Linked DNA regions of Homo sapiens: region 1 is linked to region 2. Evidence: fine-mapped expression QTL. A gene starts in region 2. The other region holds a variant in brackets. All regions are shown on one strand. Distances are from middle to middle. Region 1 has its middle 31 kb from the start of PROKR2. Region 2 holds the start of LINC00658 (long intergenic non-protein coding RNA 658).

The links. PIP is the estimated chance that this variant, and not a neighbour inherited with it, causes the effect.
Region 1: its variant is fine-mapped to the expression of LINC00658 in nucleus accumbens (GTEx, PIP above 0.99).

Annotation. Positions count from the first base shown.
Region 1 is chr20:5,284,787-5,287,703 of GRCh38, forward strand. No RefSeq gene overlaps it. Among named protein-coding and RNA genes, the nearest start is that of PROKR2, 31 kb to the right of the region's middle. The variant C/T (reference allele first, on the strand shown) is at 1,652.
Region 2 is chr20:5,444,119-5,447,035 of GRCh38, forward strand. It overlaps LINC00658 (long intergenic non-protein coding RNA 658), which reads right to left and starts at 1,630. Exons shown (of 5, transcript NR_038240.1): 1 at 1,386-1,630.

The DNA.
Region 1 (2,917 bases), 160 kb before region 2:
GACTCACATAAACTTAAAGGAAAGGGATGGAAAAAGGCATTTCATGCAAACGGACACCAAAAGCAAGCAGAGGTAGCTATTCTTGTATCAGACAAAACAAACTTTAAAGCAACAGCAGTTAAAAAAGACAAAGAGGGACATTATATAATGGTTAAAGGCCTTGTCCAACAGGAAAATATCACAATCCTAAACACATATGCACCTAAAACTGGAGCTCCCAAAATTATAAAACAATTACTAATAGACCTAAGAAATGAGATAGACAGCAACATAATAATAGTGAGAGACTTCAATACTCCACTGACAATGATAGACAGATCATCAAGACAGAAAGTCAACAAAGAAAAATGGATTTAAACTATACCTTGGAACAAATGGATTTAACAGATACATACAGAACATTCCATCCAACAACCCCAGAATACACATTATATTCAACAGTGCATGGAATTTTCTCCAAGATGGACCATATGATAGGCCACAAAACGAGCCTCAATAAATTTAAGAAAATTAAAATTATATCAAGTACTCTCTTAGACCACAGTGGAATAAAACTAAAAATTAACTCCAAAAGGAACCTTCAAAACCATGCGAATATATGGAAATTAAATAATCTGCTCCTGAATGATCACTGGGTCAAAAACAAAATCAAGATGGAAATTAAAAAATTCTTCAGACTGAATGACAATAGTGACACAACCTATCAAAACCCCTGGGATAGAGCAACGGTGGTGCTAAGAGGAAAGTTCATAGCCCTAAAATATCTACATCAAAAAGACTGACAGCACAAACTGACATTCTAAGGTTACACCTCAAGGAACTAGAGAAACAAGAACAAACCAAACCCAAACCCAGCAGAAGAAAGGAAATAACCAACATTAAAGAAGAACTAAATGAAATTGAAACAAACAAACAAAAAAATACAAAAGATAAATGAAACGAAAAGGCTGGTTCTTTGAAAAGATACATAAAATTGATAGACCATTAGCAAAATTAACCAAGAAAAGAAGAGAGAAAATCCAAATAACCTCACTAAGAAATGAAACAGGAGATATTACAACTGACACCACTGAAATACAAAAGATCATTCAAGGCTACTATGAACACCTTTGTACACATAAACTAGAAAACCTAGAAAAGATGTTGGGAGGCCTAGGCGGGCGGATCAAGAGGTCAGCAGATTGACACCATCCTGGCTAACACGATGAAACCCCGTCTCTACTAAAAATACAAAAAATTAGCCTGGTGTGGTGGCAGGTGCCTGTAGTCCCAGCTACTCAGGAGGCTGAGGCAGGAGAATGGCGTGAACCCAGGAGGTAGAGCTTGCAGTGAGTGGAGCTTGCGCCACTGCACTCCAGCCTGTGTGACAGAGCGAGACTCTGTCAAAAAAAAAAAAAAAGAAAGAAAAAAAGAAAACCTAGAAAAGATGGATAAATTCCTGGAAAATACAACCCTCCTAGCTTAAATCAGGAAGAGTTAGATACCCTGAACAGGCCAATAACAAGCCGCAAGATTGAAATGGTAATTAAAACATTACCAACAAAAAAAGTCCAGGACCAGAGGGATTCACAGCAGAATTCTACTAGACATTCAAAGAAGAATTGGTATCAATCCTATTGACACTATTCCACAAGAGAGAGAAACAAGGAAC[C/T]CTCCCTAATTCATCCTATGAAGCTGGCATCACCCTAATACCAAAACCAGAAAAGAACATAACCAAAAAAGAAAATTACAGACTGATATCACTAATGAACATGGATGGTAAAATCCTTAACAAAATACTAGTTAACTTAATCCAACAACATATCAAAAAGATAATCCACAATGACCAAGTGGGTTTTATACAAGGGATTCAGGGATGGTTTAACATATGCAAGTCAATAGATGTGATACACCACATAAATAGAATTAGAAACAAAAATCTCATGATCATCTCAATAGATGCAGACAAAGCATTCAACAAAATCCAGCATCGCTTTATGATTAAAACTCTCAGCAAAATCGGCATACAAGGGACATACCTCAATGTAATAAAAGCCATCTATGACAAACCCACAGCCAACATAATACTAATGGGGGAAAAGTTGAAAGCTTTCCCTTTGAGAATGGGAACAAGACAAGGATGCCCACTCTCGCTACTCCTCTTCAACATAGTACTGGAAGTCCTAGCCAGAGTAATCAGACAAGAGAAAGAAATAAAGGGCATCCAAATTGGTAAAGAGGAAGTCAAACTGTCATTTTTTGCTGACGATATGATCATTTACCTCGAAAACCCTAAAAACTCCTCCAGAAATCTCCTAAACCTGATAAAAGAATTCAGCAAAGCTTCCGGATACAAGATTAATGTACACAAATCAGTAGCTCTTCTATACACCAACAGCGACCAAGCGGATAATCAAATCAGGAACTCATTCCTTTTACAATAGCTGCAAAAAAATGGAAATACTTAGGAATATACTTAATCAAGGAGGTGAAAGACCTCTACAAGGAAAACTACAAAGCACTGCTGAAAGAAATCACAGACAACACAAACAAATGGAAACACATCCCAGGCTCATGGGTGGGTAGAATCAATATTGTGAAAATGACCATGCTGCAAAAAGCAATCTATAAATTCAACACAATCCCCATAAAAATACCACCATCATTCTTCACAGAATTAGAAAACAATTCTAAAATTCATATGGAGCCAAAAAATAGCCCACATAGCCAAAGCAAGACTAAGCAAAAAGAACGAATTTGGAGGCATCACACTACCTGATTTCAAACTATATTGTAAGGCCATAGTCACCAAAACAGCATGGTATTGGTATAAAAATAGGCACATAGACCAATGAAACAGAATAGAGAACCCAGAAATAAACCCAGATACATACAGCCAACTGATCTTCAACAAAGCAAACAAAAACATAAAGAGGGG
Region 2 (2,917 bases):
TCTTAACTAAAGCTCAGAGAAATTAAGATATTCTCTATGGCACTACTCAAAACCATGCACCATGATGAGTTGGCAGGATCAGAAGAAAGACCTTTTGCGGATGCCTACCTAGAAGGTTGCAGTGGATACTGGAATTTGGGTTTAGAAAGAAAAGGACAAGGGGATGCTACAAATAATGTCAAATTGAGGCTTTCAGTTTGTGTGGGTCAATATTAGCTTGTTGGGAAACAAGTGCCAGGTAGTCTGTGACATTCAAGGCCCTGATATCCTAAGAGTAAGGAAGAAATAGTGTTTAACAATATTCATCAGAGCAGTGGAGTATAAGAAAAGTCCACATATGTTCTGTGAGTCAGCATGCTGGGACTGAATTTCTAACCTCCTGGTTCTTAATTTCCTCATCTGTATAATGAGAGACTTGTTGAAGATCTTGCTAATATTCTACAGTGGGTTTTAATTTTTTTACATACTTGGTGAAAAAAAAAACAAAACCTCATTTTTTCCCCTCAATCTGATACTAGCTGGTCTAAGTCTCCATCCTTCAGGTTAGAGGAGCACTTTCCCTCAGTCATGTTTTCTACGAATCTCTAGGTGTCTTGCAGTCTAGAACATTCAAGTAAGGATTCCTGGTCCTCTGAACACTTTGGTCCCTTTTAAAGGTCCATGGCGCCGGCTACCTTGAAGAGGCAACTTGGATGTTCTCCAGACAAACTTGGACATGGGAATGTTCAGAAAAATGGGAGTTTGCGCTCTGGGGGTCCTGGTTCTCTGGTTAACCCATCTGAGGTCCAACTACCCTCTGGAGAACAGCAAGGAGACAGATTTGTTCTCTGTGATTCTTAGAGATGGGTCCCAGTCTTGGGAAGCAATGGAAGCCTCTTTCCTTTCCCATTAGGGCCATTTACACCTTTCCCAACTTTTGGTTTCTTTCTCCGGGCCATACACTGAATCCATTGTCATCATATGCTTAATTTTTCTATCACATAAGCCCTCAGTGAAGGATGTCTTCTGGGTGTCTAAAAACATTCTGTTTTTAACCATATGTCAGTTTATCTTTGGTTGTGTGCTGAACATGGTATTTGTAAAATACTTGTTGAAATAATTTGAGGGCAAGGATAATGTTACCTTCCTCTGAGGAGGATTTGATTTGTCTTTGCAAGGCACCTCAGGGAGCTTGCAATTCAAGATCAGGTTAATTCAAGCACAGGACTTTTTACCAAGCAACTTAGAAATATTTAAATAATTGAACAATTGATACAGCTGTACAGGTGCCTCCCAAATGAATATCAGCCCTAAATGCCCCCAATACTTAGGTTAAGTTCTTGTTAATATGGCTATATAACATATCACTCCCAAATTTAGGATTTGAAACAATAATTATTTCTCACGGTTTCAGTGGGTTAGCTCAGAAGCAGCTCAGCTGGGTGGTTCAAACTCAGGGTCTCTCATGATGTTGCAGTCAGATGTCAGTAGGAACTGGAGGCTCCAATTCCAAGGTGGCCCACTTACAAGGCTGGCAAAGTGGTGCTGGTGATTGGCAGGAACCCTTAATTCTTCTCCATGTGAATCTGTAGATGGAGCTGCTCGAGAGTCCTTGGAGAGCGGTGGCTGGCTTCCGCAGAGAGAGAGATCTAAGAGGTGGAAGATACAATGCCTTTTGTGACCTAGCCTCGGAATTCACACCCCATCACTTCCTCCACATTCTATTGGTCACCCAGAGCCAGCCCTGATTCAATGCGCAAGGGAACTAAGAAGGACATGAATACGAGGAGGCAGGAACCATCACAGGCTGTCTTGCAGACTGGTTACCACACACAGAAATTGGGACTTGAATCCAGGCCTCTCTGATGTCAAAGTCCTTGTACTTCACTGTGCTGCCCTCCCCAAGCAGCCTCTTGAATCTGTGGATCCCTCTAAGTGTAATGTCACCTTCAGCCTGCAACAGTACAGAATGGATAAAGTAGTGATATTAAACATGCTGTAAGAGAAGAAGAGAAGCCTAGGCTCCTTGAGCATGATTATAAAATGGGGACCAGTGAGGAGAGGATAGCCTCAAGAAGAAGAATTGAGAGGGGCTTGGTTAACTATCCCTAACTGGACATTCTGCTTTTTGCTGTTCCTGGCATCAGCTATCAGAAAGTCTCTGTGGGTGAGTTTCTGAGCACTCTTTTATGCCATTAACTACACTCTTGCGAAGCTTCTGTTTGAAGGGTTTGGATTTTCTTAGGCAGTGCCAGGTTTTCAGAATAGAAATTGACTGGTTTCTCCCCCAGAAAGTCTATAGCCTACCGTGTTTAACCCCAACCTCTAGTAATAGCTCAATCCACGCTGATCCCCCAGGGTTTGCAGAACAGAGTCTCGGTTGCAAACACTGCAATCAGCAGCTTGCTGTTTTTCTCTTTTTCTTCCACTTTATTTTATATTGATATTTAATGAATGTTTCTTTGGTGGTATTGCTATGTTCATTATTTAAACTCTGAAAATTGAAGCCATAGAAAATAATTGTTGATTCACCACAGGGAGCCATATAAATATTGTTCTAAATTCTAATGACCATGACCATTGGGATTATTTTTTGTGAAGCATAATTTCCATTATTTTGAAAGCCCTCAAGTCAGTATCTTAGAAGGGCAGCTGTTTTCTTGGCTATTTTCAATAGGTTTTTCTTCTTTCTTCATTTTTCCTTCCCTCCTTACCACATTAGACACCCTCCTTTTATTTCTTCCCTTGCCATTGTATTGTTTTTTGTTTGTTTGTTTTTGTTTGTTTTTGAGACAGATTCTCACTCTATCACCCAGGCTGGAGTGCAGTGGTGAGATCTCAGCTCACTGCAACCTCCGTCTCCCGAGTTCAAGCGATTCTTCTGCCTCAGCATCCCGAGTAGCTGGGACTACAGGCGCACGCCACCATGTCCGGCTAA